Homo sapiens: one gene and its partners. The protein of the gene in region 3 purifies or fractionates together with the protein of the main gene of each other region. This does not show direct contact. Each region holds a gene or a part of one and is shown on either strand. Other genes may lie near its edges. The genes, in order: CENPB, TWNK and ZNF169.

Region 1 (3,754 bases), on a different chromosome or scaffold from region 3:
CTCAGCCCCGGGCCCGGCCGAGGTGACCGGGCCTGTTGCAGGACCAGGGGAAGCATTACTAAAGGATCTGGGGCTCTGCACTCTGGCTCCATGCACAGCGGGTGCCCAGAGAGTCCTCTGCCCTGGGGTGGTGCTGCCAATCTAGGTTGGGGGCACAGCTAGGTCCAGTGACTCAGCTTTGATGTCCAAGACCTCGAACTCCCGCCTGCCTGGCGTGGTTCTTCCTGGTCACATGAACCAGATCGTGTTCCAAGTGGAGGATGTGGCTCTGCACGCGGTCATCAATGGGGAAGGAGGTCAGGTACCTCTTGACCATGGCAAAGTAAGCCATGGCCTCCCCAAAGCTGGGTACAGGCACCTCATCACCATCCTCCTCATCATCATCGTCGTCTTCATCTTCATCATCCTCTTCCTCATCGTCCTCTTCCTCACTGTCTGAATCAGAGTCCTCCCCACCTTCCAGGAAATGCAGAGTAGGGCACTGGGCTTCCTCCTGGGCACCATAAGCCCCGAAGCTGCCACCGGCCTCCACTACTCCCTGGGCCCAGTCCTCAGCCTCCAAGCCCTCCGAGGAGCTCTCCTCATCTTCCTCCTCTTCTTCATCACTATCAACATCACCCTCCTCCTCCACCTCCTCTTCCTCCCCCAATTCCTCTCCTTCCCCCCCTTCCTCCTCCTCCTCCTCCCCTTCCTCCTCCTCTTCCTCTCCTTCACCCTCTTCCTCCTCCTCTTCTTCCTCCTCCTCCTCCTCTTCCTCTCCCTCACTCTTGAGGGAAGTGGTGATGGTGGCATTAGGGCCACCCCCAAAGCCAGCCTCACGAAAGCAGGCGGCTATGTCCGAAGGCTCCACTGCCTGCCAGGCGGCAGCCACAAAGTGCAGGGCCTCCGTGAGACCCAGCTGCAGGCCTGAGGGATCCTGGCCCTCTAGCGCGGCCATGGCCTTGAGCAGCATGGCCTGGCGGTAGTGGCCCTTCACCTGCTGGACCACTCCCCTCTCCAGCGGATGCACGGTGCCGGGAGGGAAGAAGGCCAGCTGCACATGCCGCAGGCCCGAGGTGTCCAAGGACTGGGCAGCCAAGCGGCCGGCCAACAGCAGGACCCGGCGAGACTCTGCAGCCATTCGGGTGTCCAAGGCCTTCAAGTACTTGGCCAGGGCCTGGGTGGTGACACCACCCTTGGAGTTGGCGGTGTAGTCGCAGGGCAGGCCGGCTTGGCCTGCGCGGGGCTTGGCCGACTTGCCGGCCACCAGCGGGGGCAGCTTCTCGCTGCCGTCGGCATTGGCGCATAGCAGGACGCTCAGGCGCTGGGTGGCTTGACGCGGCCGTCCGTCGCCTCCGCACAGCCCCGCGGCCTGGTCGGGCAGGAAGTCGTACCATAGACTGGTCTCGGTGGCGCTGAACACGTCCTGCGAGGCGTAGCCCTCGGCCACCGACGGCGGCTGCTCCTCCCGAGCGCGCCAACCAGTAGTGCTCCCGCCACTGCCCTCCGAGGGCACCGCGGCCGGACTGGCAGGCGCCGCCGGGGTGCGGGGGGCAGCGTTTCGCGCGCGGGCGCGGGCCACGCCGCTGCAGGACACCACGCCGTGGCGCCGGCGGAAGCGGTCCAGCCAGCCGTTGGAGGCGGTGAAGTCGTCCATGCCCAGCTCCTCGGCTATGCGCAGCGCCTTCTCCTTGAGGATGATGCCCTTGACCGGCAGGCCGGCGGCGCGGATCTGCTGGAACCAGGCGATGAGCAAGCCCTCGAGCTTGTCGTAGGGAGACAGCTTGTTGGTCTTGCGGCAGGTGGAGGCCACCCCGTACTTGCGCTCCGACGCCAGGATGGCGCGCTTGTTCTTCAGGATCGTGCTCAGCGTGGACGGCGGGATGTTGAAGCGCCGCGCGATCTCGCCCTTGCGCAGGTCCGGATTCTCCTCCACCTCCTGGATGATCCGTGACTTCTCCCGGAACGTCAGCTGTCGCCTCTTGGGGCCCATCCCGGCGCGCCCCCCGCCCCGGGGCCCGGCGCCGCCGCCGCCGCCCCGGGGCGGGGGGCCCGGGCCCGTGGCGGGGGGCACCTGGCGGCCTCTCCCGCGCGCCCCGCCCGAGACAAAGCGGCTCGCGGGCGCGGCGGCGGGGCGACGACCCGGCCGGGCCGGGGGCACCTCCGGGGACGCCGGCGGGCGCGTCGCCGGGCGGCGGGCGGCAGGCGACGGGCGCAGACGAGGGCGGGCGGCGCGGGCGCGGAAGGCAGGAAGTGCCGCGGCGCGGGGAGCTGGGAGCGCGGCGAGCGGGGCGGAGCGGGCGGAGCGGGATCTCGCGGGAAGCGCGGGGACGCCCGGCGCCTCCTCCCCGCCCTCCGCGCCCACCCCCTTCCCGCCGCCGGGACATACCGCGGGGGGGCGCTGCGGCCTGCTGGACCTGCCCGTGCTGCGGCCTCCGGCGACCCGGCAGCGACGCGGGCGGGGACGCGGTGCATCGCTACTGCGCCCGGCGGACAGCGACTTGCTGCTCAAAAAGAATAAGAACCAGGGTTTTTGTTTGTTTTTTTTTTTTTTAATTAAGGTAAAAATAACGCACTTTTTTTTTTGCGGAACCTGAAAAATTCAAGAAGTTGAAAAACGCTTTTCACGTCACCTGGAGAGATGCACAGGTAACATTTTGATACATTTCCTTCCAGTCTTTTCTCTAGATGCATGTCGTTTTCTTTTTAAAAATTTATTATATAAAACTGGCATCAGACTGTATAGACTGTATATCTGGCATCTCCTGCTGTTTTACCTGGCATCAAGTAGTGAGAATTTTGCCATATCGGTAAGTATCATTGCCAACACGCTTTTTAATGATTGTGTAGCATTCCAGCTATGAATGAACACTAGCGTATGTAACCTATTGTTACACACTTAAGTTATTTTTAAAATCAGCATTACAGTTGTAAATCTATTTGATGGTGCTAATGACATTTTTAAAGTTCTAGTAATCCCACAACCCATAGATAAACACTCATAACATCTTGGTGTGTCACTTTCTGGGCTTTTCCATGCATATAGCCATAAATGTATGTGTTTGCACTTACAGAAATAACATCATGTATATACATAAGTGTGAATCCCTGAAGCCTCCCTCTCCTGCAGCAAAACATTAAAATGCCAAGCTCTTAAAACAATGAATGTATAGCTGTGTTTTTAAAAATCTCTTAGGGCAGCACTAAGGGGAACTCCAGCATTGGCAGAGGGGAAGGCTGTGACCCAGGGGGACAGGCTGAGGACCTGGGGCTGGATGAAGCTGTGGGTGAGTGTAGACAAAGAAGAAAAGAGGACCAAGGACAGTGCCCTGGGTCCTCCAAGGTTAAGGGCTCAAGAAAGAGGCCAGGTGCAGTGGCTCACGTCTGTAATCCCAGCACTTTAGGAGGCCGAAGCAGGCGGGACCACTTGAGATCAGGAGTTCAAGACCAGCCTGGCCAATATAGTGAAACTCCGTCTCTACTAAAAATACAAAAAATTAGCCAAGTGTGGTGGCACTCACCTGTAGTCCCAGCTATTCGGGAGGCTGAGGCAGGAGAATCGCTTGAGCCTGGGAGGCAGAGGTTGCAGGGAGCCAAGATCATGCCACTGCACTCCAGCCTGGGCAAAAGAGTGAGACTCCATCTCAAAAAAAAAGAAAGAAAGAAAGAAAGAACCAAATAGAGACTCTTGAAGTGGAGGAGCCCCTGAAGCAGGAGAAAAACCAGGCTACTGTGGCATTCTGGAAGCCAAAGGAAGAAAGTGTAACTCACTGCT
Region 2 (2,335 bases), on a different chromosome or scaffold from region 3:
CCTAAAAGAGAAGAAGCTGAGGTTGAGTGGGGTGGCCCGCTGTGGAGAAGGAGAGGGAACAGCACAGGCAGCGTCTGAAACAGTAGCAAGCTTGTCAGGGAACTGAAAGATTTGAGTGGCCCCAGCATCGTGGTCAGTAGTTCAAAGAGCTTTGGTCATGGGGGGAAGTACTTTTCCCTCTCCCATTCTTTCTCTTTTTTTTTTTCTTTTTTGAGACGGAGTCTCGCTCTGTTGCCCAGGCTGGAGTGCAGTGGCACAATCTTGGCTCACTGCAACCTCCGCCTCCCGGATTCAAGCGATTCTCCTGCCTCAGCCTCCCAAGAAGCTGGGACTATAGGTGCATGCCACCATGCCCAGCTAATTTTTTGTATTTTTAGTAGAGATGGGGTTTCACCGTGTTAGCCAGGATGGTCTTGATTTCCTGACATCGTGATCCACTCGACTCGGCCTCCCAAAGTTCTGGGATTACAGGCGTGAGCCATTGTACCCAGCCCCTCTCCCCATTCTTATCACTCCTCCCTGCCCTGTCAGCCCCCCTTTCTGCTTTGCTCATGTCCTCTTACTCCTGCTTTCCTCCTTCTGCCCCCTGTTCCCCAGGCAAGCCAGGAAGCAGACAATGTTCTGATCCTGCAGGACAGGAAGCTGGTAACCGGGCCAGGGAAACGGTATCTGCAGGTGTCCAAGAACCGCTTTGATGGAGATGTAGGTGTCTTCCCGCTTGAGTTCAACAAGAACTCCCTCACCTTCTCCATTCCACCAAAGAACAAGGCCCGGCTCAAGAAGATCAAGGATGACACTGGACCAGTGGCCAAAAAGCCCTCTTCTGGCAAAAAGGGGGCTACGACACAGAACTCTGAGATTTGCTCAGGCCAGGCCCCCACTCCCGACCAGCCAGACACCTCCAAGCGTTCAAAGTGAAGGCCGTGCAGAGCTGGTCACTGAAATGAGCCTGATAGGATAGGCTGGAGCATAAAACTCTGCAAGGGCTCCTCTATCCTGTGGTCCTGAGCTGTGTGCCCTTCTCAGTCTGAGGGGCCTAACCTAGAGCAGGTTTCCATAGTGAGAAAATTCAATGTAGCAGACTACTGAGAAACTACTGTGTTGCTCAGGCTTTGTTTGAGGTCCTGTATATACAGCACTGAAAAGAGAGATAAAGTCCCTGCCTGCATGCATTCTGGCGGAAGAGACAAGCAAGCAATGAACAAATTAGCAGAAAACCTAGTTTTAGTGAAAAATGCTGTAAAGAAAATAGAAATGCGATAGAGTGCTGGCAGGCTAGTGTAGATAAGTGGTCTGAAAAGGTGTCTCTGAGCCGAGGGCATGTGAGCTGGGGCCTAAACAACTAGAAGGAGAGAGCCACGTGAACATCCGGCGAAGGGGACCCAGGCAGAGAGAAAAGGAAATCCAAGCCCTGAGGTAGGAATGAGCAGGTCAGATTCAAGGCAGTGAGGTCAGGCCGCATGAACCTGGAGGGGAATCGGGGACTTCATGCGAAACTCCAGCCTAGGCTTTCAAAGTCAAAGGGTGATACAGTGGGTACCAAGCTCCTCTGCTCCCCACTTTGTAGAGCCTAGCATGAGGTGGCATGTACTAGAATTGGATCCTAGGTGCTTAGCCCTGCAATATCAGGGCCTCACTGGTGGGAGCTGCCTCGGGCTGGGTTGCTTGGTCATAGAGCCATAGAAGGAAGCTGTCAGCCCGGAGTGCCTGCCACCTAGACACTGATGCCATTGTGTGCTGCCTCAAGACTGCTGGAGTCAGGACATTTTATAGAGCCTTTTCCAGTTTTACTAAAAAATTTTTCCATTGCCTTTGTTTCTGTGCTTTTTCTTATTCATCCACCAGGTGTCTCCCCAGTCCGTAGCTGAATTTCCCTTTCGGGATTGGGAATGGACGGGTCCCCTCCCACTGCTTGCAGCCTTTGAGCGGTGGGCTTCCAAGGAAGCAGGGACATTAAAGGGCCTTCACACCCCACCTTCCATTTACATCTCTTCTTGGCCTAGGGAAGACAAGATGATCTGTCCTCATACCTAACTTCCCTGAGGATCTCGAGTGATTCCTGGCACAGGTACTCATCACTGGGCCACATGAGCCCAGTGCCCTGCCTGACTGGCCATTCCTCTGTGATGTGAGCCACTCACCTCTCAAGTGGACTTAGACTCAACATATTCTGTCCACCCCCATCCATCTCCCTCCTGTACCCTCTCCGTGTTTCTCATATGCTAATGCGTGCCAGAACTCCTGGGGACTTGTGAAAAATGCAGAAACTAGGCCCCATTCTCCCCCCATCCTCCACCACGTACATTTCTCATTCTGGATTTGAGGACGGGTACAG
Region 3 (3,654 bases):
GTGGATGGGCTCCAAGGGTGAGTTGCCCAGATAGTATGTCAGGAGCCTACTGTTTTCCTGTCTGGGCTTGCGAAGCCATTTGTCCGGTACCACCAAGGGAAGCAAGAGGGCTCGCTCATACACCCCCTTTGCATTTTGGTTGAGATCAGGTTTTGAGTTGGTTTTGAGTCTGTTTTGCCTGAGTGCACTCCCCCTTGTGTTGTCCAAAATTTGTCTCCACTTCTTTGTGTATCTGTCTTATTCCTTTTGATACCATGTAAACTTGATAATGGGAGGTATTGGGTTCATTCCTGCTGAGAGGCCTCTGGGAAGGAAAAATTTTTTTTTTTTTAGGAGCTCAATGGTTGACAGTCGGCCTAAATAAAAGCTAACATCCAAGATGTGTATATATATGTGTGCATGTGTGTATGTTTGTATTTAAAAGGCCTTCATGTTTTTGTTTATTTCTTTCCTAAGACCTTGTCTTTTTGAGCAAAAGTTTTTTCTTCTCTGTTGACTGAATTCTGTTTTCTTCATTAATAGCTATTACAACAAAAGCTACTCTGGGGTTTTTAGGAAAACATATAATTTAGACACTTAGAAATGTCTTTGGAAATTTTTTTTTTTTTTTTTGAAATGGAGTCTCACTTTGTCACCCAGGCTGGAGTGCGGTGGTGTGATCTCGGCTCATTGTAACCCCTGCCTCCCGGTTCAAGCAATTCTCCTGCCTCAGCCACCTGAGTAGCTGGGATTACAGGCCCCACCACCCCGCCCAGCTAATTTTTGTATTTTTAGTAGAGATGGGGTTTCACCATGTTGGTCAGGGTGGTCTCGAACTCCTGACCTCATGATCCACCTGCCTCAGCCTCCCAAAGTGCTGGGATTACAGGCGTGAGACACTGTGCCAGGCCAACATTAATAGCACACTAATGTAAAGATGAAATTGGGCTTATTTGGTATAAAAATTATACAGAAAGCACTGTTAAATATGAAATCATGTTTGGCTTTCTTTGGGCTATATTTGTATAAATACATTGTTGGTATGTGTTCCAAAGTTATGGGAAACTCCTATAATTCTATTTTAGTGTATGTTATCAGTAATAATTATAATTGTTATGTTAAATTATTTTGTACCACAGAGTTAACAGATTTCCTTGTCAATTGTGTCTTTAACTATGGCTACCCTAAAACTTTTTGTCATCCATAAACAATTGTCTTGTTTCAGTCCTCTTTAGAAGGCAGTTTTATAGGCTAGACACGGTGGCTCATGCCTGTAATCCCAGCACTTTGGGAGGCCGAGGTGGGCGGATCACCTGAGGTCGGGCGTTCAAGACCAGCCTGACCAACATGGAGAAACCCCATCTCTACTAAAAAAAACAAAAAAAATTAGCTGGGTATGGTGGCACATGCCTGTAACCCCAGCTACTCAGGACGCTGAGGCAGGAGAATCGCTTGAACCCAGGAGGGGCAGGTTGCGGTGAGCTGAGATCACACCATTGCACTCCATCCTGGGCAACAAGAGCAAAACTCTGTCTCAAAAAAAAAAAAAAAAAAAAGAAGGCAGTTTTATAATCAGCTGTAAAGCTCTAACAGGTGCTTTTGAATGCAGGTTTCTGATAACTTTAGAGATTGTGACATCAGAATAGAGGAAAAACGTTCAGGACTCGTGAAGAGCTAAAATGTTCATTAATATCAAGCACAACAGGAATTAACTGCATGAACTGAACTAATAGACTGGAATGACCTTTTTGACATTTTTGCTTAAAATATTGCTAATCCTTTGTTTTGCTTTTCAGTGTCAAGGAAACTTTTCTTCTGAGCTATTAACAGCTTTTAACAATTAAGTGTATGCCCATGAACAAAATTTGGAGCATATTTGTTCCTCTCTACCTGGTTCCTCTAGAATTTGGAAACTATCTGTGAGTATTCTTAATTTATGGCAATACAGTTATTTGCATAAGTGCAATAAGAATCTGTTTTCTTTTGTAACAGGACACAATTGGAAAAACTGGTTGTTTTACCAAGGCTTTAACTGGAATGGTGTGCTCTCCTTTAAGGAATCAAAGTTCACTTATGAAGCCAAGAAAGCCTTTAGAAACTGGCCTCATATTTTGTGTACACAGTCCCTGTACAGGGTTTCTGATCTGTGGTAAGTAAAGAATGTCACTTTCTGACAGTCCATGAACCCCAGGTTACCTTAGAACCTCAAGAGGAGAGGTATTCACCCAACTGATAGGTACTTGATGATACAAATCCATGGCTGGGCGTGGCATTAAAAAGTCTTATCTCAGATTCCTTCTATGAAACAAAGTTCCATCAAAGCCAATTTAAAAAGCCTACATGTTAGCTGGGCGTGGTGGCGCTCGCCTGTAGTCCCAGCTACTCGGAAGGCTGAGGCAGGAGAATGGCGTGAACCCAGGAGGCGGAGGTTGCAGTGAGCCAAGATCGCGCCACTGCACTCCAGCCTGGTGACAGAGTGAGACTCTGTCTTAAAAAAAAAAAAAAGGCCTACACGAAAAATAATTATTCTTTCTGCACTGTATACAAATAATTAGGCCAAGTACAATGAAGCAAACCAGTTCTACCATGATTTATCTTTTAATAAAAATGGGAAACTGGAAAGAGAAAAATTATGTTTCAAAAACTACAGTACACCTGTTGTTAAATTCTAGTTTCACCTGATGTTTTTCAGTTTTTATTATTTTCTACAATTTGGATTAAATTCTAATTTTTCTGTCTACAGGTCTCCAAAATAATGTTTTCAATTTTTTCCTCCTTCTTTTCCTTTTTCCCTATTTTTCCTAATTTGAAACCACTGAAACCTAAGCTGTGCCTTCTTGAAGCCCTGTGAACTGAAGACTAGACAACTTAAACTTCAGAAGAAAACAGTGGCAACCTATTTATATGTGTTGCTGTTGCACACTACTATGTTTCAGCAGGCGCTGCCTCTATGCCCCCAAAACAGAGACTGCTACTGGGAACAAATTGAACTCTTTCACTCCAGCGCTGCGTTCGATGCTCCGTAACAACGACCCCATCTCAGCAGGAAGTAGCCAGAAAGATTATAATGCCCCATCTCCCTACAATTCTTGTGACAAATAAATATACAAGCATGATAGAAATCATGTGCAAATTGACAGTGGGGATTGTGGCAGGTCAGGTCTCACTAAGAACTGTTTCAGTACTGACTGAGTGGTTAAGTTAAATATTAAAAGTCAGTGCCCTTATACAAAGGCTAGGATGTAACAAAAGCCCATCAACAATTTTGCCTAGGCCTTTCCTGAGCCTTAAAGCATGACAAAATAACTAAGAATTTTTTTTTTTTTTTTTTTTGAGACAAAGTCTTTCTCTGTTGCCCAGGCTGGAGTGCAGTGGTGTGATCTTGTCTCACTGCAACCTCTGCCTCCCGGGTTCAGGCAATTCTACTGCCTCACCCTCCTGAGTAGCTGAGATTACAGGCATGTGCCACCATGCCCAGCCATTTTTTTGTAAATAACTAAGGAATTCTTAACAGGACCCATTTAGGATTAAACAAGTTTTATTGTGGGTCTGAAGAAACTCCCTAGGTCTCCACAAACAAGTTTACTGAGGATCTGAGGGAACTCCCCAAGCCTCCATGATTTAGCAGGAGATAAGATAAGGGTAATCACCCCAGCACCTGGACCCACTTAGATT

What was found.
Region 1: the proteins of ZNF169 (region 3) and CENPB purify together in Homo sapiens (affinity purification with mass spectrometry; 2 studies listed by BioGRID and IntAct, with this or other methods). This does not show direct contact.
Region 2: the proteins of ZNF169 (region 3) and TWNK purify together in Homo sapiens (affinity purification with mass spectrometry; 2 studies listed by BioGRID and IntAct, with this or other methods). This does not show direct contact.

Annotation. Positions count from the first base shown.
Region 1 is NC_000020.11:3,784,512-3,788,265, forward strand, and holds the start of CENPB (major centromere autoantigen B), read right to left. Parts: upstream 2,230-3,754; 5' UTR 1,973-2,229; coding exon 173-1,972; 3' UTR 1-172. UniProt on the Homo sapiens protein: Interacts with centromeric heterochromatin in chromosomes and binds to a specific 17 bp subset of alphoid satellite DNA, called the CENP-B box.
Region 2 is NC_000010.11:100,992,593-100,994,927, forward strand, and holds the end of TWNK (twinkle mtDNA helicase), read left to right. Parts: intron 1-597; coding exon 598-918; 3' UTR 919-1,811; downstream 1,812-2,335.
Region 3 is NC_000009.12:94,265,744-94,269,397, reverse strand, and holds part of ZNF169 (zinc finger protein 169), read right to left. Parts: intron 1-3,654. UniProt on the Homo sapiens protein: May be involved in transcriptional regulation.